Linked DNA regions of Homo sapiens. The protein of the gene in region 2 purifies or fractionates together with the protein of the main gene of each other region. This does not show direct contact. Each region holds a gene or a part of one and is shown on either strand. Other genes may lie near its edges. The genes, in order: CAMK2G, TMEM200A, PPP3CC and PPP3CB.

The links.
Region 1: the proteins of TMEM200A (region 2) and CAMK2G purify together in Homo sapiens (co-immunoprecipitation; 2 studies listed by BioGRID and IntAct, with this or other methods). This does not show direct contact.
Region 3: the proteins of TMEM200A (region 2) and PPP3CC purify together in Homo sapiens (co-immunoprecipitation; 3 studies listed by BioGRID and IntAct, with this or other methods). This does not show direct contact.
Region 4: the proteins of TMEM200A (region 2) and PPP3CB purify together in Homo sapiens (co-immunoprecipitation; 3 studies listed by BioGRID and IntAct, with this or other methods). This does not show direct contact.

What each region holds. Positions count from the first base shown.
Region 1 is NC_000010.11:73,863,679-73,871,877, reverse strand, and holds part of CAMK2G (calcium/calmodulin-dependent protein kinase type II subunit gamma), read left to right. Parts: intron 1-8,199.
Region 2 is NC_000006.12:130,368,344-130,376,542, forward strand, and holds part of TMEM200A (transmembrane protein 200A), read left to right. Parts: intron 1-8,199.
Region 3 is NC_000008.11:22,534,269-22,542,015, reverse strand, and holds the end of PPP3CC (serine/threonine-protein phosphatase 2B catalytic subunit gamma isoform), read right to left. Parts: intron 2,548-7,747; coding exon 2,518-2,547; intron 2,285-2,517; coding exon of another isoform or gene 2,148-2,284; exon of another isoform or gene 2,080-2,147; intron 1,402-2,079; coding exon 1,214-1,401; 3' UTR 891-1,213; downstream 1-890. UniProt on the Homo sapiens protein: Calcium-dependent, calmodulin-stimulated protein phosphatase which plays an essential role in the transduction of intracellular Ca(2+)-mediated signals. Dephosphorylates and activates transcription factor NFATC1.
Region 4 is NC_000010.11:73,464,733-73,472,931, reverse strand, and holds part of PPP3CB (serine/threonine-protein phosphatase 2B catalytic subunit beta isoform), read left to right. Parts: intron 1-1,318; coding exon 1,319-1,464; intron 1,465-1,722; coding exon 1,723-1,862; intron 1,863-1,967; coding exon 1,968-2,045; intron 2,046-2,150; coding exon 2,151-2,245; intron 2,246-5,253; coding exon 5,254-5,379; intron 5,380-8,199. UniProt on the Homo sapiens protein: Calcium-dependent, calmodulin-stimulated protein phosphatase which plays an essential role in the transduction of intracellular Ca(2+)-mediated signals.

The DNA.
Region 1 (8,199 bases), on a different chromosome or scaffold from region 2:
GGCTTCTGTCGTGTTGGCAGTTGTTCTGGGACCTGTTTAGCAGGGCCGTGTCCACTCCCTGACTGGGGACTCTCTCTCCATCCCTCTAGTAGGGCACTAATTGCTGACTCCCATCCAGCTCCATCTCTTGCTGTTCGTGTACATTGCCTATAAAGTTGGACTTGTTTGTTTTCTTTCTCTCTGGGTACCTTGAGTCTGAGGATGGTTGCCATAGAGATATGTGGGCAGTCAGATACCCTGGAGTGGGGGTGGGGGGGACAACAGGGGCTGGGCTCTCTGGCAGACATCCTCTGGCCAAGGATGGAAGGTGCAGGCAGGAACAATGGCTTGAGGCTGGATACCTCTCTTGCCCACACAGCAGAGCCCTGGTGCATCAGAAACAGGGCTGGCATCTGGTGTCTCCAGTTGATGATGCAATGCTTTGCTCTCTTCATCTCACCAGTGTCCTCTGACCCATGGGTAAGAGAAGGAGAGATGGCTGGGAGCCGAATTCTGGGATGTGAGGATAGGTGATGTGGTGACTTCCTGCAGCTGCCTGACTGGGGCTTTCATTTCCTACTCCTTCCCTACCTGCGTAAATTTCCATGACCTGTGTGATAGCCTCCCTTTCCCTTCCTCACCTCCTTTTAACCTTGTCCCATCTTTCCCAATGGATATCTTTCCCTGGCCAAACTGGATGAGACTTGATTTCTCGTTGATTTTTTTTTTTTTCCCCTCAAGAAGAGGATTCTTGTGTAAAAGTATATGCTTCAGACAGCAACTCCCCCTCTCCCAAGATGGATATGCCAAGACTGGGCTCTGTTGTGTGGCCTCATGTGCCAGGTTGACTTTGGGACAGAGGCACAGATGATAGGCACAGATGCCAGCCAGAGGGGTCAGAATGTGTAAGTGCCAGCCAGTACTGTGTGGAGGTGGGAAAGTGGAAAGGGGCTGTCTTGGAGATGGAGGGAACAAGGTGGGGCTGGACTATAGGTGTGGGCATGGGAGATGTGAACTCCTGGAGAGATCTGGGCCAGGGTAGCCATGGGCTGGTTCCCATGGGGTTAGGGAGTGAGGGCCATGGCTTCCCTGCAGACTCTCAGTTTACACTATATATTTTATAAAGGTGCAGCCACTGGAGCTGGGTTTCACTCATCGCTGTCTGCCTAGGTCTCCGCAGGTGTTGGATTTCTGTGTCTGGGAATGTCGTGGGCCCACCAGGGTCATCTGTGAAGGTCTGAAGGGGCTTGCTGTGTTCACTGGGTCTTCCTGCCTCCTGTCTTTCTTGTTTGTGATTCTCTGGGCTACAAACTGAAAAGATAAAAAGAGGGTATAGAGCTGTTTCTCCTTGGCATCCCTGGTGAGGTGGCTAGGAGTCAGGGAGAGGGATCACCTGTTCTTCTGGGGGGGTCCAATCGAGACAGGAAGCCTTCTTTTGGGCTGTTGTGTCTTGTCACTGTGGCCTCAGAGGCCCACATTGGCGGCTAGGTTGCAAGGTGGGGAGTTCATGCGGATATGCGTTGAGCACTGTCTTTGTCTGCGGGCCTGTCTACATAAAGTCACTGAAAGTCACATAACGTCACTCCGTTTGCTTCAGAACCGTGATAGGAGTGGAGCTGGGCTCTTAAGGGAGCCCATGGTTCCAAGCTTAGCTCCACTAGGCCGAAGGAGGCATTTAAAATAGGCTTGGATGCAGGAGCTAGTGGGCCAGGTGATGGCAATGATAAGTCGTTATTTTAAGATTTAAGAGCACCCCCCTCAAGGAGCCTGAGCCCTTATGTCTTTTTTTATTTTTAAATCTTCATATTCCCTTCTTATCTTTATTCATATGCATACAGATTTTCACCTCGTGGAGCATAACATTTTATATCCTGCTCTCTTTGCTTATATCCAAAGCATTTCCCCCATATTACTACAGTTGAAGGGCAAATGGTCCTTTCTTCTACGTCGTTTAGGATTTATCCCTAAAACAATCAGCATCACAAGAAACTTCTGTATATGTACCATTTATCTGGATTCCAGTTGCTTTTACCAAGATAGATACTGGGGTAATGCCCTTGGCCTTACTAAGAGATGCTACCGGAAACAGTGTTTTGAAATCTGTTATAATACTTTAACATATTTATTTAATCTGTACATTCCGTGTGAAGAAATTTCTTTTGAAGCTAAATGTAAGCAAAAGCTTTCCTCTTTGTGAGGACCTGAGAGGTGAGGGAAGGGTCCTTATGTGTTTCTATACTTCTGCATGGGCAGGCCCTAGCGAAGTGCCTGACGTATGCCAGCCACATACACATTAAATGAATGGGTCAAGAGGACTATGTAACCAATCATGGTTGCCTTTTGGCTTTGGCTCCTAGGAAACTCAGAGTCAAGTTGCCAGAGCCCTTGTACCCTGCTACAGACTTGGGTCCTCCCTTTCTGATCCAGGGAGCCAAGCTGCAGACCTGATACGGCTGCTGGAAGAGAGGACAGATGAGGATAAAGACCTGTGCTTGGGGCATAAGGCAGAGTGGGAGATGTAGGCAGACATTTAGCTGATGATTCCTCCTTCCCTGTCACTAAATGGCACTATAGGGCCACTGTTGGGATCTCTTCCAGGTAGTGATTTTCAATTTTAGTGTGCGTAAGGATCACCCTGAGTACTAGTTTAAAAAATACAGACTTCTGGGCTTTAGCCACAGAGATTCTGCTTTAGGAGGTCTAGGGTGGAGCTGCAGAATCTGCATTTTTAACACATGCTCCAGTGAATTTCATGCAGGTGAGGCATGAGCCACTCTTTAAGAGATGCCACCTAAAATCTGCAACAACAGTTGCTCTTGCCATGCCCTCTGGAATTCAACAGACACACCTTGGCCCATCCTTCTCCAGATTGTGTGTCTGCCACTATGTGGCCATCTGTGCACATGGGCTGTTCTGTGATTAGGGGCCTCGTTCTGGGCCTCGGGATTGGGGTGTCTGTGTCTGAGGCTGCGGCAAGCTGGGTGGCTCGGGTTGTGGCATGTTGGCCACCAGAAGGGTAAAGGCTGTCCCTTTCTGGGTCCAGCTGGCCCTGGGGACTGAAATGGGATCCCCTGGATGGTGCCAGCTGAGAGTCCCCGCCCCCTTAGTGTTGGCCTGAGTAGCCCCCATGACATTTGTGTCCCCTGTGGTATCTCCAAGTGAGACTTTCCTGTTAAGGATCTGGGTGAAGTGAGGGAAAGAGAAGGGAGGGGGAAGCAGTAATGCAGGGAGTGGGAGAAGGAAGAGAAATCCACACAGCACTGGAACACAGGCCTCGAGGAAGCATTTAAGGAGGCTGTGTGCGAAACCATGCTTTCCTCCTGAGGATAAAACAGGCCAATTTCTGTAAACAGAGAAATGGGCATCCTGCATATCAGTGATGGAGCGCCTCTACTTTCTCTCCTGAAGGGATGGAAGCCGACTGCAGGTCCCTCTGTGCAAAGGCTTCTGCCAGGCGGCTTTTGTCACGCGGTCACGTTGAGCTGTGGGCCTTAGCACACACAACACTGGCCTGTCCCCCTCCCCTCCCACCTGTCTTCCTAGAGTGACTTGGGGTGCTGCATCATGGTGTGGGGATGGAGGTGGGAAGGTTGCCCTGTCCTGTCAGGGAGGCCCCTGCCTTCTTCCTGCTGCTTCCTCTGGTCCCTTGTCACCATACCCTTGTTCGAAGCTGTGCTGAAACCCTAGAGGTGAGTGGCTGACCCCATTCTCTGCTGAGACTGGAGATAGGGAAGGGGAGGCTGGGTGTGACCATTCCTGCTCCCATCTGTATGCTTGCTGCTCTCTGAACAGCTTTGGCAGACCAACAAGGGCCTGATCCCATGGGTGCCAAAAGGGTGGTGACAGGAGGAGATGGGCACTTTGCACCTCTTGAATGCCTCTCTGCAGAGCCCCTTTGTCACCTACCCATGGCCAGACAGATCTGCCGCAGGACCGCTGGGGAAATCAAAGCACAAAAGCTTTGTCTGGGGTCTTTTTTTTCTTTTTTGGTTTTGTGCTGCAGGTGCCCATGACTTTGCCAGGGCTCAGACCCAGCGTCCTCAGGCCGTGTGGCCTCCACCCACTCCTTGGCGCCTTTCTTTAAAACACAGGTTCTGGATACTTTGTTCCTGTGATGAATCTTGGCATATCACCTCACACCTCTCCATCTAGGCCCCAAGCTCCAAGCCTGGTGGAGCAAATCCCTCCTCGTTGCTGGCTGAGGCCCCATTCCCGTCTGTACCCACCTCTCTGGGCTGTGCGGTGGGGAGATTTCCAGCCACTCCTCCCCAACACCATCTCCGCTTCCTGGGCCCTATCAGCAGCAGCCGCAGCTTCCCATCTGCTCCCCTCTTTTCTCCTCCCTTTCTTTCCCTTCCCCCCTGCTTGCTGCTGCCCTGGGAGGAGCTATTTTTAGGGGCTGCTTCCTGGGATGTTTTACTTGGGGCTGGTTACCATGAAGGAAATGTCACCAAAACAGTGGGCAAAGGCTGCAGGCACCGGGAGCCCTGCCGGGGGGCATGGAGAACAGACGGCTGACCCTTTTCTGGCCCTTGAGAGCAGCCAGAGTGCCCCCAGGCAGAGCCTTGCCTTCTTGGGGCTTGCTAGTGACCCCTTGGGGATTTTCTCTGTCAAAGCTGATTGAGGGCCTTTTCGCTATAGGGCATTTCTTGGAGCCTCTCGCTTCCCTTGCCTTGAGATCCAGAGGCCAAAGTGGGGCTCAGGTCTTTGTGTCACCAAGTTAAAACTGCTTGAGTGAGGGTTGAAGATAAGGGGAGGATGCTGGGTACATGCACAGAGCCTTGGGGGTTCACATGGGACCATTTCAGGCCCCGTCCCTCTGTATCACAGCCCCCAGCTAGTCACCAGGTGTACATGTGTGAGGGCATTAGAAACCATGGTCCTGCTCTTGTGTGTCGGATGGACTTTGCTTTTAATTGGAGACTCTTTGCATCTTTAGAGTGAGATTCAAAGAGGAAGGGATGTGGCATCACAGTGTCAGGGTGAGGTCGGTGGGATCGTGGCTTGGGATTCCCACTGGTCAGTGTCCCAGGCCCAGGGCTGTGCATAAGCAGCTGGGGAAGGTGGATTATGACATCAAATCCCTGCGATGTCCTTGTTTCTGCTCCTCAGAGTGCCAAGGGGACCAGACGGCGGCCTCTGCTGCTTGGGAAGAAGATGAAAGGCACTCAGGAGGGCAGCAAGTGAGGCCGCCTCCCATGGAGCCCTGAAATCAGTGGGGTTGCAGGAAGTTTCTCACATCCATGTTTAGGGTCATAGGCACAGACCTGCAAAATACCCTTTACAAAGTTAAGAATGTCTTTGAGATTGGAACTTGGGAGAGTCCTCAGTCAGAGTAGGAATGTGCATCCTTTCCCACGTACAGAGGATTGTATGTTTACGTGGCAGCAGGATCTTATTTGAAGCTAGTGCTGGCATTTGTGTTTTTTTTTTAGGAAAATGTCACTAAGTCAAGCAGGCCCATCCCTGAGAGGGCCATGGAGAATCTGTGGCCAGCCCTCCCTGGCCCCCTGACCTGGCAGAGGAAGGAAAGGGCATTGGAGTAGGCTTCTGTCTTCAGGCCAGAGGGGGAGGTGGTTCAGGGGCAGGCTTGGTGCACCCCTTGGCTGCAAGCTATCACCTCCCTATCTGCTTCCTCTTTTCTGCCTCCCCTGGTGCATCTGGTCACTTCTTGCTGCCCTTCCTGTGAAATCGTGGCACCTTGGACCAAGTCCTGAAGCACTTGGGCAGAAGGCGGGAGAGGTTGGGTTTCTAGGATCCTTGTTTCCCAGGGCCTGGCTCTGGCCTGGGCTCAGACCACTCTGGTCTAGGCAGGCTGCTGGGGAAAGGCTGGAGCTGCTTCTGCTTTCTGCTCCTGTTGCCACCTCTGCTAATGATGGGGAAAACCTGCAGAGGGCTGTGGTTGGAGCTGGGCTGAAGGCCGGCAGGGGTGGGTCTCTCCATGGCAGTAGCACACAGGCAGGCAGGAAGTGGCCCTGTGCAAAAGCGGGAAGTGGCAGTTGTCAAACAGGAAGGGGGGGGCTGGGCTGTGGGAGGGGCGGGGATGAGCCTGGTAGAAAGGTGCGTGGAGGAGGGTCCACCTTGGAAGGTCTGAGCCTCTCCCTAGTGGTTACTGGAAGGAGGGGTGTCTCAAGGGGAGACACCTTTGCAGCACCTTGAGATGCCGAGCCAGGGCCCTCCCACTGTGGACCAAGCCCATTCAGTGGCCTCGCCCTTTTTGGGGTTGGAGATGCTGCGTCCAGCTGGGATGCCCTTGCTTTTGGGAAAGATGCTCTAGAAACCACTACTCCATCCTGGAACCCCTCTGCTGCCACTGCTGCTGGGATGGACCCTCTGCTTTTTTGCAGCCGTGGGCCAGCCCTGGATGTGACTACAGGACAGGAAGTGTCAGGGGAAGAGACAGGAGACAACAGCTGGAGAGGCTGGGTGGTGGCCGGGCAGTATGTGGCAGCAGGAACGGGGAGAGCGGGGCAGGTAGAAACTGCTCTGTTCATTGAGGAGAGCTTGTGGATGGCAGGGTGCCACGGCTGCGAGGAAGAGGAGGGAAGCGGACAGTGGCACTTCCTGCGGCGTTCCCCTCTCTCTGAGGAGCCCCTGTTGCTGCCCATCACCTGCAGACTGTAGACACAGGTGGGCCCCGCCAAAACAGGGAGGGACACTCCACCTCCAGGACTGCAATGGAGGACCATGTGGGGAGCCCAGAAGCCAGGCAGGAGGGCTTAGTTGCTGTGTTGCAGACCCTGCATCTGCCTGGGCTGAGGGGACAGTGGGTCCCATTCACAGTGTCTCTGGTGATAGCTGTGGCCACAAGCCCAGCCCAGGAGACCCTGTCAAGCTTCTCACTGGGCCCTTGGAAAGGAGCTATATGCCAGACCTTATGCAAAACTCTTGACCTGTACCACCTCAGTTAAACCTCAGATCTTGCTGTCTCTATTTTAGAAGTGAGGAACCTCTTGGCCGGGTGCCGTGGCTCACGCCTGTAATCCCAGCACTTTGGGAGGCCGAGGCAGGCGGATCATAAGGTCAGGAGATCGAGACCATCCTGGCTAACACAGTGAAACCCCGTCTCTACTGAAAAATACAAAAAAATTAGCCGGGCATGGTGATGGGCGCCTGCAGTCCCAGCTACTCGGGAGGCTGAGGCAGGAGAAGGGCGTGAACCTGGGAGGCGGAGCTTGCAGTGAGCCGAGATCATGCCACTGCACTCCAGCCTGGGCAACAGAGTAAGACTCCATCTCAAAAAAAAGCAAAAAAAACAAACAAAAGAAGTGAGGAACCTCTTTCCCAAGATAATGTGCCTGGCTCACTGTCTCACCTACTTTGGGTCCTAATCAAATGTCACCTCCTTACTGAGGCTTTCTTGGACTGCCCTACTCAAATCTGCACTCCCCACTTTCTCTGCTTTTTCTACGCAGCACTTGCCGTGACATCTAACGTGCTGTTGAGTTTTCTTACTGTCCATCCCTCCCCCATACACAACCCACTAGAGTGTCAGCTCCATGAGGGCAGGGATTTTTGTCTGTTTTGTTCGCCACTGTCTTCCTAGCATCTTGAATACTGTCTGTCACATAGTAGGCCTCAGTAAATATTTCTTTTTTTTTTTTGACTTGCTCTGTCACCCCAAGCTGGAGTGTAGTGGCCCAATCTTGGCTCACTGCAGCCTCCACCTCCTGGGTTCTAGTGAGCACATTTGGCTAAATTTTGTATTTTTAGTAGAGATGGGGTTTTGCCATGTTGGCCAGGCTGGTCTTGAACTCCTGACCTCAAGTGATCCACCCACCTTGGCCTCCCAAAGTACTGGACTGGGATTACAGGCGTGACCCACCGCGCCCAGCCACGATAAATATTTCTTGAAGGAATGAATGAAGCTCGGGTGGGTTTAATAGCTTGCTGGATGTGGCAGTGTTGGGCTCAATCCAGGGCTGTCTGACTTCAAAACCGATGTGTTGTTAATTGCCATACTCCACAGCTTAGAATCAGAATGAGGATCAAGGTATAGTCCTGGGGTTCAGAGAAGACCTGGGCCTTGCCGGGAACACAGGGCTCAGCTCCTTGGAGTTAAGGCTGAACTAAGAGGCTAACAAGGACCCTCTGGATGCTGGGCAGCTCCTTTGAGGAGCTGGGAGCCTGAGTCTGTGTATCTTCTCTCCACTCAAAGTCACTGGTAAAGCAGAGTGCCCTTATTTTTAGTGCTGTTGCTGTTGTGGGACTGTAACCATT
Region 2 (8,199 bases):
TAAAAGCAAATGTCAACTTTTACATTTCTTAAGCAAAATTAGTAGAGGATAAAAAATAAGCCCTTGTAGTCATACACGTTACTTATCAAATAGAGGGTAGAATTTAAAAGAGGAAAAATAACTTGTGCAGCAACAGAAATCCAAACCTGCAATGAGATGGACCTCATTTTATTAAGGAATGTATATCTGATTTACAGTTTTATCAAGCAGATCCACTTGTTCCTGGACTTACGCTATGTTTTGTCTGCTGAGATCTGATATGTGCTCAAACACTCAGAAAACATCAGTGAGTGCTTATTGTGGTGTCATGCTAGCTACCCTTCCAGGCCTTTTCTATGGGCTTATAGGCTGATGGAGAGGGGACTGATAAATGTACCACAGATCACCTGGCAGCTGAGGTGGTCTGAGAGCAGCAGGGGACCAGTGCAGACTGGGAAGCAGCATAGTGGGTTGCAGAGGGACCTGGATGGGGAGTTGTCATCTTGACTGAGTCACTAATTAGGTGGCTGTGGGTAAGTGGCTAAGTTCCTCCACCTTTCTGCTCCTTGGTGCCCTTATCTGCAGAATGAGGGCTTTGGACTGACGATCTTTATGGTCTCTCTTTAAAATGCTGCAAGGCAAATTCTGGCAGAATTAAAGAGAGACAGAAGTCAGTGTGTGTGTGTAGGAGGGTGGTTTGTAGGGTTTTGGTTGAAGGAAGCCAGGCTGGAGGGTCTTGCTAGTTGTATTGAATGGGAAATGGCAAAGAGAAGTAAAAGATGTCTGGCCTGGGACATCTGACCTAACATTGATTATGTGAATTGAAAATACATAATAAAATAATAAAAATACCAGCTTTCACTTAGTACTGGGTGGTTTTCCATGAATTTTCACAAATGATGCAATAGATTTTTGTAACAACCCTCGGAAGTAATTAGAGCAGAAAGGTGATGAAGCTGGGACTAATACTGCAAAGCACATCTGCACCAGTATGCGCCACTGCCTTTCTGCAGGATTTGTAGAGATAGGAGAAGCTAAAGCTCACTTTGGAAACCCTGAGTAAACAGGAGAGAGACATAAGGTTAGGGTCAGATTTTAGGTGAGGTTGAATTTCTGCGTAAGAATTTAGGTTACATTCTGGAACACAGAAGTCTCCAATTACGAGCTCAAGACTTCCTGAAATGCCTTGAATTCTGATTATTGATGTTTAATCTTACTGCTCCTGTTCTGTGCCCACTCCTCCTCTAAGGTCCCCCTTTCCCCAGCAGGAATTCTGGGGCTTTGACTATCACAGAGTAATTGATATGACTCTTCCAAGAGCTTTTAGTGATGCTGGAAAAAGGAAATCCATGCATTTCATATAAAGGCGAGGATTCTGGGGCCACTGTATCATTAATTGATAGGATGTGTTCTGCAAGTTGTGCTTTGGAAACTTTGTCACCAGAGGTGAAATTCCACAGAAGGCATAGAAATCTAGAAAGGTGTAAGATGAGTGTCTGTACATTCCTTCCTGTAGAGCCCTAATCACTCTGCTCTGAGCATGAAGTGCACCAAGGGGGGACAAGTCTCTGCTTACCACCCAACTGTGTGTTCACCACCCCACTTTGTGTTCATGTAGAAGGGAGTTACTCAGGATTCATTTGCTTGCATGTGTGAATATTTAACTAGGTAAAGCAAAAAAGGACTTACTGGCTCATTGGACCAGAAAGTCCAAAGGTGGTCCTTGCTTCAATCATGGCTGGAACTCAGAGACTTACACAACTTTGTCGAGGTTCTTTCTCTCTCTCCCCATTTCTCAGTCCCACTTCTCTCTGGGTCAGCTGTATTCTGAGGCACTCTTTCTGGATATGGAGAAAGATGACTGTGGGTATTTCTAAACCTACATTCCTGGGCTTTTCATCTATGAGAAAAAGAGGTCCTTTCTCTTCCAGGTCCCATTTTTATAAATCTCCTTGAAGGGCTCTGATTGGCCCTGCTCAGTGGTAATTGAATTGGTCTCTGTGTCTAGCAGAGAGTGCTACTCTGATTGTATTGGACTAAATCATGTGCCCAACCCTGTGTATATGTGGTTCTGGTGCTGGGATGAGGAGGAGGAGGCTGGTAGGGCACTATGATAGGCAGTTCTGTCAAGATTACATAGAGTTGTGGTTCTCCCAAGAAAATAATGCTGCCAATCAAAAACAATAGTCTATTATTGGGAATAATTCCTTCCTTTTTTGGGACAGCCCTCTGCACAATGATCTGGAGTTTGCACATGGAAGCAACTCAGGTGCCCAAGACAATGCGTATCCCAAAAGTGGGACCTTTCTCCCAAGCAAGGTATAGCCCAGTGATGAAATAATGCCCTCATGTTTAAACTTTATTAAAAGGAGGATTGTTTCCAGAATGGGAAACACCCATTCTGGAATGAATGGGAAGCCACCATTTATTCATATCTATGTACTTCTAGCAAATATCCCTGTGCCTTATTTCCAGCCCAGAGATTTTGTTTCCAAAAGCCCTGCCCATCTAGTGATGATGAGATTGGATACCCCCTACTTTGGCCATTGTAGAGCCAGTGAAAGTTTGAACAGGGAGCTGAAGTGATTAACACAGAACTATTGTTTATGCAAATACATTGGGTTGTTGGAAATGCACAGAGGGGAGTGGCAGGCACAGATTAGGATTTTCATTTAGGAGGCATAAGATGATAGGTTTCCAATTAGAGTAATGGCAGCAAGAATTTGTGAGCAATATTATGAAGTTCTTATGAGGTTATATGTCAGGATGAAGGAGCATCTTTGTTGACAGAAGCATTTGTGGAATGAAATAGGCCAGGAGGGAGTAGACTAGGAAGACATCCTGGGCCAGTAGGTGAAATGGCTATGCGTGGTAGATAGGTTAATAGCAAATAGATTGTGTAGACAGGAGGCCTGTGGTCACCATGAGTCCTAGGGGCATGTATAGAACTGACATTTACCAAGGATCTACTTAGTATGGTAGGTTCATGTTGCATACTTTAAAGTTATTATATTAATGTTTATATAAAGTCAGGGAGGTAAATAACTTACTGAAGGTTATGAGGCCATTAAGCAGTACAGCTGGAATTCAAACCCTGGCAGTCGGACATCAAAGCCTTGCTTTAACCACTATGCAAAACTACCTCTCAACCTCAAAGTCAAATTCACTGTATCAGGCCAAACTGAAGGACCAGCTAAAGGTTGGCCCTTCTGATAGGAAATGAGAGTGCCAGAATTCCAGGTCAAATAGAAGGCACAGAACAGAGGTTATTAGGGTGAAAGTGGATAACATTCATGCTCAGAGCCAACCTGGACAAGAATGTCAAGGTAAGACATTCTTGGAAAGGAAAGAATATCACATGCATCCATTCTGGATTTAGGGTTTGGGGTATAGCAAGGAAAGGGGATGGGAAAATTATCAGGCAGTTGAACAGATGGGCAGATCAATAGAACAACTGGAGTTTGATTGTTGACCTGAGAACAGGAACTCTACCATCTGCCATGGCTTTAAATATCCTTCCTGGTGTAAGTTGATAAGAATATGGAATGGGCAGCTCCTCAGAGGGAGACAGGATTTTATTAGTTGTCAGGCACTATCAGGGAAGGAGCTAACGTTTGTAAGGCCATGCGCCTTAGATACGTAAGCTCACTAAATCTTCATTATAATTCCAGAAGGGTAAATATTATGCCTCCCCACCATCGCCACTTTTCTTGAGCCAGGAAATGGAGGCTCAGAAGGTTAAGTGACTTGCCCGAGCTCCTGGAGCCAGACTGGAAAGTGAAAGAGCTGGCATGGAACCCAGATCTGTTGGAATCCAGACCTCTTCCTGGATCTTCAGGGAGTCATCCTGGTGCTAGCAGGACAAGGTCAATATCAAGTCTGAGAGATGGAAATGGGGAAATCAGGAGGGGCATATGGTTGTGAAGGAAGACAGTAAGCTAACTTTTAGACATCTGAGTGTGAGATAAGAGCAGACCGTCTGAAGAGAATTGTCCAGCAGGATTATATCTGGCTTTGGCAGAAAACTTAATAATCTAGTAGGTTTTTTCCCCTCAGTACAGGATCTCTATCATTATGCAGGGTAGATACGTCAGCAAGTCAGATGTTTGGAAGGCTTAATTTAAGTCACTGATTTCAGTTCAAGAGAAGGGACCTCTGCCAGCTGCCATGGCCTGAATTTACCTTTATACATACAGATACTCTGCCCTGAAATGTGAAAAAATGAGAAGTAGATACATATAGAGAGGGAGAGAGGACACTCGCTAGCACATGCTGAATGTAGCAGGTTCATGAAACACTCTAGTTACAAAGGTGTGTACTTGAGGATGCTCTAAATAAAATGAGTTACTAATAGAATGTGAGTGACATCATATCGTTCCCCAACAAATACAAGGCCAAATTTGTATCTGCTTAGGTGTGTGACTGGATGTGTGCGCAATTGACTGTGTATGTATGTACAACAAGAGGAAGGGGAATGAGAAGGTGTATAAAAATAGAAGTATTTATGAGAACCTTGTAGCCTATTCGGAGAGGTAAAACAACCATGTGTAAAACTTTTAGAACAACTCAATAGAATAATATGTAAACAAATGGTTACAATGCTTTGAAATAAAGCTGGTAGAGATATGCAAAGAATATTAGAGGCCTGTGACACAAAAGCAATGGTGAATAGGAGTAGGCTCTTTCTTGTAAATAGTGAGCTAATCACAGAGGTGCTGATAGATTAGCAACTGCTGGGGAGAAAAAAAAGTATTTTCCTTTTGAGAATCAACATCTTTGGGCTTAAATGCAGGATGAATCCAAAGAATCTCAGTACTGTCTCTAAGCTGAGGTTGGCATAGGAGAGACACAAATTTTGTTTCCCTTGGCAAAGTAAGTCAGATCGGCTTAGTGAACATACATGTGCAAGTATTTGCAATAAAATGGAGTTAGCATTTCTGAAGAGATGTTGTTAGATTTTCTAATCATAAAGGCGATACACACTCCCAATAAAAACCTTAGAAAAATACATTAAGTATAAAAAGTCAGGGAGAAAATTTGCCTGTAATCCTATGACCCAAAGGCACTCATAACATTTTGGCATTTTCTTTCTCCTTATTTTTAATGATTTTTTCCATAATGCTTAATAGTGTATTACAACCTACTCTGTTTGCTTAATCTTATGTCTTAATATTTTCCAACTTCTAGACAAGCTTTATTAATGTCAGTATAATATTGGATTATGTGGACATATCATAATTTATTAACTATTCCCTTAAAATTGAACTTTTAGGCCATTTCCAAATATTTGATATTATAAATGGCACTTTGATGAATCTTTCTTCAAATTTCAGAATCTGTTTTTTGTGCATAAGGGTTATAAATGCATTTATATTCCATTTTATATATGTTTATCAGATTACTTCTTTTAAAAAGATTCGTGGAACGATAATTCCTGGGTCAAAGGGTATGAAAATTTCAGGCTCTTGATACTTAATGCCAAACTGATTTTCAAATAACTGAAGTTATGACTGACAGTGCATGGAACTACCCTTCACATGCTCTCACTAGGTGATTGTTTTTATTTTTAAATTTAAAAAAGCCACCATTTTGAAAAAAAGAATAGTTTATGCTAACTGCTGATTTTGTTCCTTTGTTACCCAAATCTCCCTTTTAGAATGTAGACTATGTAAGATATTGTGATTCATTTCACTTTTAAAAATTTACTTATGTTTCTGAACATGCAGATAGGGGCCCATGATAGAAAAAAGTAGCTTGTGAATGATTTTTTGAAAGCCAGTGTTATACATATCCTGTTTGGGGACTCTTCAGACTCTGCTGTGGAACAGCCCGTGAGAGAAGTTGATTGATGTAGGATGAGAGCCCCTTTTTGCAGAGCTAAACCCCTGACAGCCCCGCCTCTGTAGCCTTGGATATTAGGTCCTAGTAGTCATGGAGTGTTCTAACTGCACTTTTCACTGGGGCTGTAACCCAAGTGAGAGCAGGCCTGTAACTGTTTTGTCCATGGCTATGTCCCTAGCAGATGACCTTAGACAAAGTTTTGCTGGGAGGTGGGATCTGAAAATGCCTGAGTTTTTGTTTTTGTTTTTGTTTTTGTTTTTTTTTTTTCAGACGGAGTCTCGCTCTGTCACCAGTCAGGCTGGAGTGCAGTGGCATGATCTGAGCTCACTGCAATCTCCGCCTCTCAGGTTCAAGCGATTTTCCTCCCTCAACCTCCCGAGTAGCTGGGATTACAGGGGCACACCACCACGCCAGGCTAATTTTTTGTTGTTGTTATTTTTAGTAGAGATGGAGTTTCACCATGTTGGCCAGGCTGGTCTCGAACTCCTGACCTCAGGTAATCCACCCACCTCAGCCTCCCAAAGTACTGGGATTACAAGTGTGAGCAACCTCACCTGGCCATGAAAATGCTTGAGATTTTTCCCCTAGAAAACTTCTATAATGTTAGTCACTGATTGCCCAGAAACAAACTTCCTGAATTTTGAAACTTCTGGTTTTACTCTCTTTTCCAAAGAAAATTCAACCACATCACAGTACCTAGTTTTATGGCAATGAACTTTGACTTATTCCAGAAGAGGAATTTGGATCTTACACATACCTCTGCAGGGTATTTTATTGTCTAAAAACACTTACTGAGAGTAAAGGGAACTATTAAACTTACAGTAGCAGTCAATTTGAGGTGGTTTTTGAGTGCCAATTTCAATTTTTCCACAACTATTATATTCCTACAAAAATAATTTACAACTAAAATAAAAAATGTTTTGGTTTTCTTCTAAAAGTTGAAGGATATTATTCTATTGTAATAACTCTATTCTCCTTTATGGATCTCAGTCAGTAATTTTGAACAAAATTATTTTCGTTCATTTGTTCAACAAATGATTATTTAGAGAGATTCATTCAGCAGGTGCTGTTAAATTATATTATGACTCATTTTGTCAAATATGAGACAGATCTTCTTACACAACAATAACGCAGAACACTGTGTAGGAATTTATGCCTATACATTTATTTACTTACTTATAAGACACATAAAATCTCTTATAACATGCGTTAAAAAGTAAACTTGGCTCAGGAGAAGGTTTATTAATTAATAAAGGATTCATTAAATATTTGTGCTGCCAGCTGGGGATCCAGTAATGACCAAAACAAAAAGTTATGGAGGAGCTTACATTGTAAATGGAGGACACAAACAGGAAACATATAAATGAGCAAGGCAATTTCAGGCATTCAAAAAGTGCTGTAAGGGAAGTCAAGAAATCTGATGTCATAGAGAGTGCATGCGCTCATTTAGATCAGATGGTCAAGGAAGACCTCTCTGCATTTGAGGCATTTAAGCTACAACCTGCGAGAGAATGAGGAGCCAGCCTCACATATTTGGGGAGGGGGCATTGGAGTAGGTTTTATACTCAGTGCACTGGAAAGCCATTAGAAGGTTGCTCTTTTGGAGCATGATGTTTGAGGTCATTTATTAAAAATGAGTGTTGAGATGAAGAGTGCAAAGTATTACCTCACTGTAATGATGATATTGGTATTGGGAGCAAAAACAATGCTCACATTAGAGACTATATGTAGTTATGGTCAAGATATGTCATATATCACTATATGGCTGAAGACATTTCATATACAGTATGTCTCCCTACAAAGGGGTTTTAATATAAATATAACGTAAATATATTTAATAAATTTATAAATATAACTAAATATAAATAGCAATTTCAAAAGAATATATAGAGCTTAGTAAGTCCACCACAGAGTTTTTGTTATGTGAACTTGTATTCTTTAACTGAGCCTAGCATATTGACTTGTACATTATATACATTTGATAAATGTTGCGGAATTAACCATGTGGAATATTCTACTTGTAAGAAAAAAAATTAACCTCGGATATAAAATCACATTAATTATTTTCAAATTTATTTGTTATCACATTAAATAATTATCACATTCAATTAATTAATTATTTTTTGAGAGAGGGTCTCACTCTGTCACCCAGGCTGGAGTGCAGTGATGTGATTTTGGCTCACTGCAACCTCTGCCTCCTGGGTTCAAGCGATTCTTATGCTGGGACTCCACAAGTAGCCTCCCAAGTAGCTGGAACTACAGGCACACATCACCATGCCTGGCTAATTTTTGTATTTTTAGTAGAGATGAGGTTTCACCATGTTGGCCAGGCTGGGCTTGAACTCCTGATCTCACACAATCCATCTGTCCTTGGGACTC
Region 3 (7,747 bases), on a different chromosome or scaffold from region 2:
AGCCCCAAAATTTCCTTCACTAGTTGGTTGTGACTTGAAAATCAAACTAAGGGAAGATAATTCACACACTACATCTGAACACTTGCTTTTCGCATTCCAAAATATGCTAATGAAGGCTGAAATACCATTCAACCTAAAGAGTAACTGATATAGAAGACAGGAAATCCTCACTTATCCAATGTTCTTTAGCAAGACCTTCAATTCACAAGGGGACCATTGAACTCTTGTCAGTTTCTACTACCCCAGCTGGTTTCAGTAATACTGACAGGGAACAACAGAAGGATGATGGGAAGGCACATGCGAGAGCTGATGCCAACAGCCTAGAAGGGCATATATACATCTTGTTGTAGAAGGTGCTGCTGAGGGCATTTATCAAATATTTAGAAAGTGACTTCCTTTACAGAAGTCACCTGGGGTTCAAAAATGAAAGTAAAATAATCTGGCAATTGTGAAAGCTTTCTGAAAATCTTTCTCCTCCAAAGTCCTAAGGAAATTTAAACCAATCATGCCCATGGTCAGATGAACAGATTTTAAGTAAATCTAAGAACATCCCTTATTATTTTTTATTTTGTTTACTAGAACATATTTAAACGAACTGAGAGTCCAGAGAAAGTAGGTTATTATAGAAAACATTTCCCTTCGCCCTTAAAATCACTGGATTTGGGTTATTCACTTTGAAGTTCTACTATGATCCAGTTTCCCATCAAAAGGGAAGCACTTTTAGCCACTGAAATCTAAGAGGACTTTCTTCAATGGCACCCAGCAGAAAAGGAAAAAAATGAAAAGGAAAAAAATCTTCTTGCATTTGAAACGTTATTAGTCTTACATGAAAGACATTACCTTCCAAAAAACAATAATGAAGACTGACTAGTTCAAGTCAGAAACCCAGGTTTGAGGTTTCCAAGGCCCTTTTATTAGGGGAAGTTCCCCTTTATAGCACAAGACTTCACAAATGTGTTGACAACAATCAGATTCATTTCTTAAAATTATGGAGAAAAAAGGGAAAAACAAAACAGATGCACTTTTTATATATATTGAACATAAATTAAAAGAATTTATAAAACAGCCACCTTTTTACAGAATAAATGCAGACTGAATTATAAATGCACCTCCACGTTGAAGTTGTTTTGAGTTGCTTTTCATTTTCCAATAATAAATAAATAGAATTTGTTCTTGAGTTTTAGATCCACCTGAGCCACGGCAGGACTCTAAGTCATGAATGGGCTTTCTTCCCTTGGTCGCTCCTGTGCGCAGCATGTGAGTGTGCTGAGGTTACAGATTTCATTGGCCCACCAGCGTGTATGCTATCCTTTCGGGGTGGCATTCGCTCATTAATTCGGTCCAGACCTCGCGCTTCTTCAAAACTCCGGATCTTGTGCTGAAGCGAGAACCCTCTGATGGCTACAGAAAAACAGGAAGCAGGTGGAGAGAGCTCAATTAGGCAGCAAAGCAACAGGCTTAAAAAAAGTTTCTTAGCACACAGCAACCTCCTAGAGAAACACACAGAAAGGTGGCTATGGAGCACACGTCTAGTGAAAGTCATGGGCAATGTCTGACTGAATCAGTCTTGGCTGCAGCTACTGCTTCCTTAAAGCCCAAAGGGCAGCTGAAATTGTGAAAGTAATTTTCATAAAAGCTCTATATGCATAATCATGGTAGACATATACCTAACAAAAAGCTAACAAGTACTTACTGGGCCCCAGTACCTTTAAGAAAGAGTGTCTTATGCACCAGAAACATACTCAATGCTAGAACAAAGGCAACACTAGAATAATTGAACAAGTTAAACCCAGGGTAGTTGCTTTTCGCACAAAGGCCACATAGACCACAAAAAAAAGTAACAAAAGAGCTAATCTTTTCGTTTAGGACAGCTTTCTATCTTGCACAACCAGGAGCTGTACATAAGTTAAAAACTTAAAAATAGCTTCTACATATTTTCCTTCCGATTCAACTTTTATAACACCAAGTTAAGGCATTCGCGTTTTGAACCATCTTACCTAATAAAACAATTACAAGTATAATACAAGTTTATCAGTTCCAATGGTTTTCATAGAAACAAAGTTAATTTAACTTGCCTACCTTAGGGCAACCTCAGAAATGAATTGAACTAAATTCCAGTCTACTTCTGCCTCTGCTCTTGAAATCTTTTAGAATCGCTGAAGAGGCTGACCTATTTGGCTCTCTTGAGAATCAAATGGATGTCTCTTGTACATGGAAGGGATACAGAAGTAAACCACTTGACCTCTCATGACCAGTTGCTTAAGCTTCTGCCGTTGCATTAAAGCTGATAGAGCCCAGAAAAAAAACTGTAGCTGTGGTGAAGGTTATTTAAAATTAATGCAAAGATAGGACACAAAGGAAACACCTGCTTCGTTAACATGCCTAGAAACAACTATACCTTTTCTCACTGTTATAGTTCTGGTGATGCAATAATAAAATATTTGAAATGTTGATAAAGCTTCGAAAAACCAGTACACAGACACATGGATCACATCTATCAGAGTAATATGGCCATACCTTCCCGGGCCTCTACCGCTTCTACTGTGGCTGTAAGAGGGCAGGAGCAGTAGCATGCAAAAACGAAGACAGAAAAAGAGTGAGTAAACCAACAGCACTGATGGCAGCACAGCCATCCCAGGGGCCCGTTTTTTAGCCTATCCCCATCCATAATGAAAGTCAACTAGTTAGAGAAGCGAGAAGATTATTGCGAGAGACTCAATTGGGGTGGGAGGAATATGGGGTGGGGGAGAGTTTCTAATATTTTTAACATTTCAGGTGCCATGGAACATTGCTCTTTTCATTTTAGGTAGCCAACTGCTACTTTATATCTTGATATCCACGTATCGAAACAACATGTAGAATCAAATAGTTTGACATCACAACAATCCTTAGTTTGTAAAATATCTCAGGTGATATTAAATGAGCTACTGCTGGGTCCTATTCAAAAAGCTTATTTACAACTACATCTTACTGCTCTCAAGTGACTTATTTGGAGTCCAACTGCCCTATTAATTACTTCATTTAAAAAAAAAAGAGTGGCCTTTGAACAGCAGACTGGCATTTGGAAGGAGAGAAAAATAGGTTCCATGTGAAGGGTTATTTCTTGTCCAGGAGTGGAGTACAAAGCTAACAAAAGCATAGAACTATTGAATTCCTAATGCAAATGTGTGTACCCATCTGCTATAAAAATATAGCAGAGGCTAATGTTTCCAATCCATATGGCTTCCATACAGTGTTCAAGAGAGTTGGCCAGTAACTAAGAAAGCCCTCTTCTTTCTTAGCAATGGAAAAGGAAGCAACTTAAAAATTAGTACCAACAGGTAAACTTCCTTGCATCTCCTTTCTCAGACAGTAAAAACGCTAATATATGAAAAGGTACAGGGTGCCACAAGAAAGATCCTATTAGGAGAACCCTGTCAGTTACTCCAGTACCAATTTGCCAAAAGAAGGCAGTGAAGAATAATGAGCAGTAACAGTTTGCTGCTATTCCCAAGGCTTTATATATCAATATGAGAAGAGAAACTGAAAGAACTACATTAACTACCTAATGGAATGTGAAAAATGGATAACTGAAATCTACTTATGAAGTGCTTTCATTTGTCAACCATAGGCAGGCATGTATTAAATCACTGTCACACCCTCTCTAATCTCCTTAAGTAGAACAAATACCCTTGACAAGAAAGCTACAGTGCCTTCTCACAGCACATCACTGATGTAACTGTTAGGAAGTGGGAGAACAAAGCATTGCTGAAACTCTACACTGAGTGTTGGTCTAATTAGAGCTTAAAAGCTACACGGTAAAATGTGTATGATATTACCTTGTTTGGGGCCCTCCCAGAATTGCTATTCACATTGGGTATAAAGATAGCAGCCTGCAGTAAGGGCCATTATAAGAAACAGTCATATCAAATGACCCGAACTTTTGTTTTCCTTTTTAACATCTTAACTGAAATAGAATTCATATACCACAAAACTCACTTGTTTAAAGTATACAAGTCAATGGTTTTAATATAGTAGAGCTGTGCAACCATCACCACAATCTGTGCTTAGAATATTTTCATTGCCCCAATGAGAAATCCCCCACTTATTAGCACTCACTTCCCATTTCCTTCCCTCACCTCTTCCCCTTAATCCTGGTTGAACACGAATCTACTTTCTCTCTAGATTGGTCTGTTCTGGACATTTCAAATGAGTGGCATCATATAATATGTGGTCTGTAGTGACTGACTTCTTTCACTTAGCATAATGTTTTCAAGGTTCAGTCATGTTGACATGTATACCTGCATTTAATTCCTTTTTATGGCTGAATAGTATTCCATTGCGTTTACCACATTTTGTTTATCCAGTTTATGGACAATTGCTTTTTTCTGCTTTTTGGCTATTATGTTGAATGCCATTTATGAACATTTGTGTACAAGTTTTTGCGAGGACATATTTTCATTTCTTTGTGGGGTATGTAGCTATGACTGGAATTGCTGAGTAATAAGTCAATTCTATGTTTAATCATTTGAAGACCTGTCAGAATGTTTTCCAAAGCAGCTGTACCATTTTACATTTCCACCAGCAGTGTTAAGAAGGTCCCAATTTCTCCACATTCTCATCAACACTTCTTATTAACTGCTGTCTTTTCACAGCCATCCTACTGACTGTGAAGTGGTATCCCATTGTGGTTTTGATTAGCATTTTCTGAATGTCTAATGATGTCAAACATCATTTCATGTGCCATTTGTATGTCTTCATGGGAAAAATGTCAATTCAATTCTTTACCCATTTTTAACTGGGTTGTCTTCTTATTCAGTTGTAAGAGTATATTTTCTAGATACCAATCTCTTAGGAGATATATGATTTGAAAACATTTTCAACCATTCTGTGGGATGTCTTTTCATTTTCTTGATAGTACCATTTGCAGTACAGAGTTTTTAATTTTGATGTAGTCCAATTTATAACTGATCTGTTTTAATCTGATGGTCTTTGTGAATCTTGTCCTGTCCTTGGCTTTCCCCACTATTTTGGCTACTGGGATGCTTAGAGTCAAATTTGTGGCTATTGGCTTTATTTTTATTTACCTTTGTGCTTCAATTTCCAAGCATATTTATTTTACTCCACTATGTTTCATGTATACTGTAACTCACGCCAATCCCTCTTAGATCAAGGTGAGACATACATGAATGTATGTTACATGGCCATATGGGATACTGTTGGTTGAAAGCTCTCCAAGTTAAGTTATATGAACAATAAAAGGTCTTTTTTAGTTAATGCTCCAGTTAGCCAATGAGCTGGTGGAACTGAGACTCCAATGTGAAAATAACAAAATAAACTCACTTCCTGTGAATCAATAAGAATAAGAAACTCTAAAAAGTTGGCTCCAACTTTACCTTTGTTCTCACACATTACTGAAGATTTCTATCAACTTTGGAAGTATCAATCAATGGTCCTATCTTGATTAAAACACTCATATTCAACTCATACTTTGGGGCTGAGCCCAAAAGGTGACCAAGAATTAGAAACAAATTTCCAAATAACATAGCTATATAATTCTGTTGCTCAGCCCTGATTTGCAGATTTGCTTTCTCAAGGTTTAGACAAAGTTGGTTTCAATTAAAACAATTTTGTGGATCAGCAAATTTTCATAATGTTTACCTAAGGATGCTATAGGACATTCCTTTTTTTCTCTTAACTCATGTTACTGCCTATTACTCTATCTTTGTTGTCAGAGTTGCTCTCGGAATATCTCAGATGACTAATTACCAAGCAAAGCAATGGTGGGAACATATTCTGCTCACAAAAAACTGCACATTTATTTGAGAAAAATATTCAATCGGAAATAGTTTACTGATACTTTCTGTGAAACTAAAGGAACTAGGAAAATAAACTATACTTCCAAAGAGAAAATGTTCAGACTTCCTTCTAAATAGCTGAACTCTAATATCTCAGTATTCTATTTGAAAGAGAAGGAGGAATTCAATCTTATAAAAAGAAAAAAGGGCTGGGCACGGTGGCTCACGCCTGTAATCCTAGCACTTTGGGAGGCTGAGGCGGGCATATTGCCTGACCTCAGGAGTTCCAGACCAGCCTGGGCAACATGGTGAAACCCCATCTCTACTAAAATATAAAAAATTATCCGGGCATGGCGGTGTACGCCTGTAGTTCCAACTACTTGGGAGGCTGAGGCAGGAGAATTGCTTGAACCTGGGAGGCGGAGATTGCAGTGAGGCAAGATCGTGCCACTGCACTCCAGCGTGGGCAACAGACCAAGACTCTGTCTCCAAGAAAAGAAAAAAAATGGGTTTGTCCCTGTTAGTCAATAGCAATGAAATTTCTACAAAAGAAAAAGGACTCCTATAAATGGCAGGATGGCCAGGCACAGTGGCACATGCCTGTAGTCCCAGCCACTCGAGTAGCTGAGGCAGGGGGATTGCTGGAGCCCAGCAACCGGGCGCTGCCATGAGCTATGACAGTACCTAGCCATTACATTCTAGCCTGGGCAACTCTGTCTCTTGGGAAAAAAAAAGAAAAAGAAAAAAGGCCAGATGAACGATGAGGTGGGAAAAAAACTAAATAGAAACAATTCAACAAAACAAGGGGAGCAAAAAAAGCAGTTAAACTTTAGTTTAAGATATTAATGCTTCAATACCAATTTTCATACCTAGTGTTAGTCACCCAGTAATATGATCTCCTGTCTCTTCCCCTTGCATGTTTATTCTCACGAACATCAACCTTTTCATTCCGGGATTCCAGAAAGCCCTTTCCTAAGAAGTCAGCTCCTGGGTAAATTTCAGAATTGGTACTCTGATTGAAGAGGTGATTTTGGCACTGGAATAGAATATGGCTGCAGGGAAAGAGGCAAACTCCCTCTCTGATTGAGAAACTGCAACCCCCTCAAACTGTTTTCTTTAAGGTACAAAATATACACGAGGCACAGCAGGTGCACAAATCTGAAGTGTACAGCTCAACACATTCTTACATAAGTATACGCATGTCTAACTACCACCATGATAATGATACAGAACATTCCTAACACTCTAGATGTTCCCTGTGCCCTTCTGGGACAATATTCTCCCACCAGAGGAAGTGACATTCTGACTTTATTATCACTGATTAGTCCAATGGTTCTTAAATATTATATAAATCAGACAGTCTGTGCTCTTTTATGTCTGGCTTTTGCAGTTTTCTGTAATGTCTATGAGATTCAACCATGTTGTAGCATGTGTCCATAATGTGTTATTTTTTATTGCTGAGTATTATTCCATTGTATAAATAGAATACAGTTTATTTATTTATATTTCGGAATACAATTTATTTATGTAGTCTGCTACTGATGGACATCTGGGTTGTTTCCAGCTTTGAGCTATTATGAATAAAGCTACAGTGAACATTCCCATGCATAACCTTTGGTGAACACATCCAGTTTCTCTTGGATATACACCAGGTGTGGAACTGCTGGGTTACAGGGTAGACATATGTTTAGCTTTACTGCCCAGTAGTTTTCTAAAGCGCTTGAATCAATTTACAAGCCCTTTAGCAACATACCTAGTACTAGTTCTCCACAAACACACCAATACTTGGTATTGTCAGACTCTTTTTTTTTTTTTTGGAGACAGGGTCTCGCCCTGTTGCCCAGACTGGAGTGCAGTGGCACAATCATAACTTACTACAGCCTCAAACTCCTGGCCTCAAGTGATCCTCCCACCTCAGCCTCCCAAAGTGCTGGGATAACAGGTGTAAGTCACCATGCCCTGGCCCAAAC
Region 4 (8,199 bases), on a different chromosome or scaffold from region 2:
CCAAAATCTCATCAAAACCAAAATAGGAATTTAAAGTTGTAAAGGAGCAAATGAAAGTGCATGATATCTCTCTAAAAGTAAATGATAGTTTGATTTGGTAGAGTTTTGTCTTTCTTGTGTTTCTATATTGGCTTCCTGCTTCACTGCCCATTTTAAAGTATTCATTGTAGGCAAGAGGAACCCCTCAGCTTTTCTGACATGAGCATGCTATTATCTTTTATTTTTCAGAAAAAATGGATGAACCTTGAATTTTGTTGTGATGATGTAGTCATCTTGCCTGTAATAAGAATAAAGTAGTCATTGACTCTTAGAATAAAATAAAGCAAGTATTAAAATGATTTTAACCTCAAGTACAGTTCTAATTTTGCCTTATTTGGCCGATAAAGGTGAAGGGTTGAGCTGTTTTTAAGAGATTTCTTTCTTTTTTTTTTTTTTTTGAGACAGAGTCTTGCTCTGTCGCCCAGGCTGGAGTGCAAGTGGCACGATCTCGGCCCACTGCAGCCTCCACCTCCTGGGTTCAAGTGATTCTTGTTCCTCACCCATTGAGTCTCTGGGATTACAGGTGCACACCAGCATGCCTGGCTAATTTTTGTATTTTTAGTAGAGACAGTGTTCTGCCATGTTGGCCAGACTGGTCTCAAACTCCTGGCCTCAAGCGATCTGCCTGCTTTGGCCTGTCAAAGTGCTGGGATTACAGGCGTGAGCCACCGTGCCTGGCCTGTTTTTAGAGATTTGACTGACTTATTTTTAACAATACGTGATGACTTTTCTGTCATCCAAAATAATTTTAGAGAGCAAATATTTTGCTTCATAAGACATAACATCATCGAGAATAATTTTAGAGAGAGCAAATATTTTGTCTTCATAAGACAGATAACTTTGCATATTTTTGTTGATTCTTATAGGGGAAGATGCTTTCCTTAAAAAAATTGTGTGCAGTAAGATTTATTCTCTGTGGTATTTACTTCTGTGACTTTTGACACTGCATAGAGTTGCCCACTACCACTATCATGATACAGAAAAGTTTTATCATGCCATAAGTTCTCTCTTGCTACCTTTTTATAGTCACCCCTTCACTCACTCTGAAGCCCTGGCCACCACTTTGCTGTTTACTGTCTATAATTTTCTTGCCATCTGTCTGTCTGTCTGTCTGGGCTATTACTACAGTTGAAACTGTAACTATCTCAATTTCATTATAAATAGCTATAAGATATAAAGGAGGGGAGAGAACAAGAAATAAAAATCTAATATATATGTTTTTAAAATGGTCACACCACCACCAGTAATGTAATTTTCAATTAGTTTTTTGTTTTTCTAGGTAAAATTAAGTATTCGGAAAGAGTCTATGAAGCTTGTATGGAAGCTTTTGATAGTTTGCCTCTTGCTGCACTTTTAAACCAACAGTTTCTTTGTGTTCATGGTGGACTTTCACCAGAAATACACACACTGGATGATATTAGGAGAGTAAGTATATATTTTACTTCCGAGATTGATTTCTATTTATAGTACATTGTTGAGTAGAGCAGAAGTTTCAAACTTCACTTCACTGCCAAGATTAGGTAATAGTAAAAATTAGTATACTGATATCTTAAGGAAATAACTTCTGTTTATTCACAATAATATAGTATGAACTGTATTCAAAGTTGGTATCGTTTTCCTATGCACATTTTATCCTTACTTTTTGATGAGTTACTTCTGTTCTTTCTTTTCTTTCTTTCACAGTTAGATAGATTCAAAGAGCCACCTGCATTTGGACCAATGTGTGACTTGTTATGGTCCGATCCTTCTGAAGATTTTGGAAATGAAAAATCACAGGAACATTTTAGTCACAATACAGTTCGAGGATGTTCTTATTTTTATAAGTAAGGAAAAATATCCAAGATTAATCACATTTTAGTTGTTAACATAGCATATGCTTCATACAGAAAAGCCATTATTTTACTTAATTTACTCTTTTTCCCCCACAGCTATCCAGCAGTGTGTGAATTTTTGCAAAACAATAATTTGTTATCGATTATTAGAGCTCATGAAGCTCAAGATGCAGGGTAAGAATTCTGTTTCCCTGACCCAAATTAACACCTAAAATATAAATCAAACTTAGTAACCATGATTGATGCTTTACGATGCATATTAAGCTATTTGTTTTGCAGCTATAGAATGTACAGAAAAAGTCAAACTACAGGGTTCCCTTCATTAATAACAATTTTTTCGGCACCTAATTACTTAGATGTCTACAATAATAAAGGTAAGATATTGTTGATAAAAAAAATTGTTAAACAACTTAGTATTTTAATTGACTTTTTTTAATATAATAAAAAAGGGGTGTTGTTTGAAACTATTAGTATCCAGATTTCTTTATAAATAACTGTAAGATGGAGGGGAGAGAACAATAAATAAAAATCCAAAATGTGAAACTAAGTAATATGTAACCCCATTCCACAACTTGTCTCTTGGAAAAGCCATTTTGTAAAACGTGCTCTGAGTTAAGTGCATCAAGCAAAACCAAACATGATTTTCTCAAACTCCCCTTTCTTAAATCTTTTCCCTTATTGAGGATGTTTTCTTATTTGTATAAAGCTGCTGCTGCTTTGATGATTTTATTTGCACTGTCTACTTGTTTAGTTTATCATGTTTCTTGTTTTATGTTCACTGATCTAGGTTCTCTTTCCCTTTCTTATTTCCTTCTTTTACCTCCACAGTCTTATCACTGCCCCATGAAGATTTGTATTTGAGCTTTTTTTTAATTAATTCAGTTTCATCTCATTTGAGGGATACATTCTTCTCTTTATTTTTACTGCTTTTTTCCTTTGCCTTCCGTTCCAGAGATTTTCATTTCCCCACCTTCCCTGAAAATTTGACCTGTCTATAGTAATTGGATTTCATTTTATTTTGAATACAGTTTATTGACAGAAAGTGCCAAAGGGTCTTAATCTAGTTAAGTGTGTGCCAAGGACATTGAAGATGAGATTGGGTATGTTTATGTAGTTTACATCTTTGGAAGATGATATTAAGAGGCCAGCTTCTCTTCTGTCTTGACATGTCTGGAATTCAGTTGACTATGCCATAGCTTCAGGATCAGACTGGAGTGGATGTGCCAAGAGGAAAGAACAGAAGGTTAAAGACTTTAAAAAGGACATTTAGAGAGAGAATGAGGTCATTGCTAAATAAGGGTCATGGTGTAAGTTCAAAAGAGGAACAGAGGAAGTTTTTTTGGATGATGAGAGGTGATGGTTAAAAGATTAAAACACTTGCCTGAGACCAAACAGTAGCATGCTGGATAACTTGGGTACAGAATATGCTACAAGAACTTACACTATAGATATCTTATGAAATATGACTTCATTTTTGAGAAGAAACATATCTAAGTTTTGATTCCATTCTTTCTCTCTCTAGACAGGGTCTCGCTCTGTTGCCCAGGCTGGAATGCAGTGGTGCAGTCTCGGCCGACTGCTACATCTGCATCCTGGGTTCAAGCAATTCTCTTGCCTCAGCCCTCCCTAATAGCTGGGATCATAGGCACCCGCCACCTCGCCCAGCTAATTTTTATATTTTTATAGAATGAGGTTTCACCATGTTCACCAGGCTTGTCTTGAACTCCTGACTTCAAGTGATCTGCCTGCCTCAGCCTCCCAAAGTGCTGCGATTATAGGCCTGAGCCACTGCGCCCCTGCCCTGATTCCATTCTCAAAAACAGAACCAAGTGTTAAATTTAACTTTCTACCAGTGCTCTAATTCCTCAACTGTGACTTCCTCTTGTTAATATTAAGGGAGCTAGTGTTCAGTGTCCAGTTGAGTACTGCCTTACTGATTGTCCTTTGTTGGTTTGACTCAGGAGGTTAAGGGATGGATTTTTTTTAGCACTTAGAAAAGAGGCTCAAACCATTGACTGTCTTATCAAAAATCAGATGTCTCTTTGTAGTCCTGAGTCTGTACATAAATAGTGTTAATGGTTTGAGTGTTTACGTTGTATGGGTATGTTTGTAATTTTTCATTCTATCCATAAGGCAATTTTCTAGATTTTTCTCTCTTTTATCCCTTACAAAAGATCTGAAAGCTTGGTATCAGCTCATAATTTTTGAGACTAATTTAAAATACTCTTTTTTCCCACTTTGAACTGATTGTCAAAACATATAATTTAAAATACTTTTATTTCAGATGGGAATTTCATATGGGAAACAAACATATACTTATTAAGTTAGTAAACAGTAACATGTAGCAGGATTACTTTTGATTCTCTATTAGCCACAATCACAAATGTTGGAATTTAACATCTGCATTTCAGTGCTTTTCATTAAAATGAAAAAAAAGTAACCATAAAATTATATCTACAAGACATTTTATACTTTTATGTATTTTCATGTGAAATGCATTGTCTGATCTTAAACTTCTGTGGTAGGCAGGGTAGACATATTAGTCCTGTTTTATAAATGAGAAACACATTAGTTGAATAATTTACCAAGCATTGCACAGCTAGTATGTGCTATAGTTTAGATGAGAATCCAGCCCTTCTAACCCAGTGTTCTATACAGTAATATAACCAGTAACTGAAATCTATGTAGGTCATTTAAGATTTTAATTATATCAACATATTGAAACATTAGATACCTGCATTTGAGATGAAAATGTTATCTCTGGATTGTTTGGTTATAATATTCTCTTTTGGTGTTTTAGTAGGATTTTTTTTCTAAACAAAGTAAAATATTTCTTTGTAGTAATTTTGTCTGATTTTCCATATTAAATGAAACAAATACATTCATACATTTATAAGTAAAATGTTCCAAATGGGTGGGATTTTTTTGTTTGCTTTATTACCATTCAGCTATCCTTTTCAGGTTGCCTGAAGCTAGAAAGATCTTAAATTCTCAATTTGTTTGAACTTTAAAAACCTAGAAAATTGCTCATTGCCATTCTGTGTTTCCTCTAAAAACTGAGTTTTCACAATTTTGGATTTAGTAAAAATGTATGTTCATCATTGGATTATAAAGTAAAACAAACATTCTGGAAAGAATCTGGAAATTTCATTAGTAATGTGAAGACCTGACTATAGTTATAGTTCTACATAACAGTGTTAAAAACAAAACCTATGTTATTATTAAAAATTAGTTCCTTCCTCCCTCTACCAGCCCTGATTCCACTCACCCCCGATCTCCCTTCCTCTTAATATTTTTCTGCTTTTATGTATTTTATATTTTTAAGGCTAATGACAAATAGTTACTTATCTATTAAGTTATTGATGTTCAACTTATCTTGCAGCTGCTGTATTAAAGTATGAAAATAATGTGATGAATATTCGACAGTTTAACTGTTCTCCACATCCTTACTGGTTGCCTAATTTTATGGATGTCTTCACGTGGTCTTTACCGTTTGTTGGAGAAAAAGGTATAATTTTTATTTTTAAAAAAAATTTGTTTTATTACTGTTACATTTACTCCAGTTTACTATCATAGGCACATACTTGCTAAAGGAAACCAAAGTCTAGTTTCACTGTGGTTACAGCTCTCCTTGTGTCAGTGGGTGTGGACATAAGAGTCTCAAAGATATTTTAGTTAGCTGTTTACAGCCCCCATGTGAGGCTGTCTGGGGGACTGGGAGAAGATTTATAAATAGCCCAATGTCTTCAGCTGTTGGATTTTCTTTTTTTTTTTTTCTTTAGCTTAAATCTTTTATGAAGGGGTGGAGAGATTGCTTTGCTTGAAATGGGCCCTTCTGCATATCTTAACACCATTTTTGGGCATTCCACCGAAATTCTTGGGGAAATTTAGTAGCCTTCATTTTAGCAATATTAGTCATTTTAATAGCTGTTCTATACTTTAAGAGAAATCATAAAGAGAAATTCAGATTGTAACCCAATATTCCTTCTCTTATATAAAAAATATGTATAAAATTTTAGTAGTGATGCCTTTCTAATTTAGAGGAACACTTGTTAGTACATAATAGGCTTTTTGAGAGAAAATAAATGCTATTTAAGAAATTCTGTTTCTGTGTTTCATTTGTAGTTCTATAGAATTCTTAGGATTTTGTTACCTATCATGTTCTTTTCCATTTTAAGTTAATTTTTTTCATAAGAAAATGCCTCAGTTTCCATATGTGGAAAATGACATTATGAGAGTACAGACATGATTATAAAACATTTTGTTCAGTATCCCCCTCTATTTTTTCTCACCTCTTCCATATTACAAAATGTTCCTTTCTGTATGAGATACGTCACTTCTGCCAAGGCAATTTGTAGTTCTGAAATTCAGAATTAATACTTAAACTGTGTATGTTAAACAGGTTTTCTGCAGATTGCATTTGGTGTTCTTCATTTACTCAGTAGGTCCAATGTTAATACGGAGATAGAATTACCCTTTAGCATTTGAGAAGGGGGCCAGTTAAGGGCTTAGGTGCAAGGGATGCATTACACTTACAACCTTCTATCTTTGGTGTATGAGAAATAGTTCAATCATAGCATCATCAGATGAATTAAATAATTCATCCTGCTCACTCTCCTGCCTTCAGGCTAGACTGCAACTCAACTGTTTTAATGTAATATGGGAAGGATGGAGGGGCCAGGAAGATAAGGTAGGAGGAAAATGGACATTTCATAGATTCTAATTTGATTCTCTGATAGTCCCACATAAGGAAATATTTCGTTATATCTAATCTAAATATTTATGCTATGAGTATTTAAACAAGGAAAGAAATAGAGATAATAGGTTTTTCTCAACTAATGCACCTGTCAAAAACCAGGGCATCATAGGGTTTTAGAGCTCATAAGTGGATATAACAGTCATTTAGCCCAACTCCTTTTGAGAGATGAGATAATTTAAGATGAATTCTGTGGATCCCTTACAAGTGAAGATGGAGAACAGTAGGCTTTTATCAGTATTCCTGTATTTGAGGTCTGGTACTAAGTGATCTTTAGTTTTTCCATTGCCACTCTAAATCATCTTTTATAAACAAAGAAATATTCAAACTTTTTGACCATTTTTGTTGTTTTTCTTTAGATCTTCTCTAAATTATTCACATCTCTCTAAAAATGTAAAGCTCAGATTTTAACATTACATGCAAATAGAATTCTAGCCAGTGTTGAGCACAGTAAGAAAATCTTCTCAAACTCTTTGCATATTTTGCTATTTTAATACATGATGGCTGTTTAGATAGCCTGACTACTTCTTGATGGTAATGAGCATTTTCTTTTGGTGTGAAAAGCAGCAAGTGACATTTGTTTTACTTCGAAGAAGCCAGCTGGACTCTGGGTCTAGTTCCTGAGAAGCAGGAACTAACCTAAGCCAGAGGCTTCCTGAAAGGCTGATTTAATCCCAAAATTAGGCGAAAGCAGTGTTTCCTTACCCTTTTGGGAGCTAAAACCCCCACTATTTTTTTTTATAGAGACAGAGTCTCGCTCTGTCACACAGACTAGAGTGCAGTGGTGCCATCATAGCCCACAGCAGCCTTGAACTCCTGGGCTTATGTAATCCTCCTGCCTTGGGCTTGTAAAGCACTGAGATTATAGGTGTGAGCCACTGCACCTAGCCAAGAACCCCTTTTCTGTTTCACTAAAAATATTCCTACATTGGCCTGTAGTCCCAGCTGCTAGGGAGGCTAAGGCAGGAGGATCACTTGAGCCCAGGAGTTTGAGAATACACTGTACAACAATCAAACATCTGAATAGCCACTGCACCCCAGCCTAGACAATATAGCAAAACCCTGTCTCTAAAGAAGTAAAATAACTTACATTGGGAAATTTTCAACATACACCAAGGTAGAGTGAATAATATGAATTTCCTATATACCAATTATTCATCTTCAACAATTATCAAATCATAGCCAATCTTGTATCATTTATGTCCCCATCCAGTACTCCCCACCTCATACCTCAATTATTTTGAAACAAATCTCAACTCTTTTCTATCTATAAATACTTTAGAATATATTTCTAAAAGATAAAGAGTCACATTTTAAAAGTACAAATAAAAACATTTATTAATTTTTTTTTTTTTTTTGAGGCACAGTCTCATTCAGTTGCCCAGGCTGGAATGCAGTCTCATTCTATTGCCCAGGCACAATCTCAGCTCACTGCAACGTCCATCCCCCGGGTTTAAGTGATTCTCATGCCTCAGCCTCCTGAGTAGTGGGATTACAGGCATGCTGTACCACACCTGGCTAATTTTTGTATATTTAGTAGAGACGGGGTTTCACCATGTTGGCCAGGCTGGT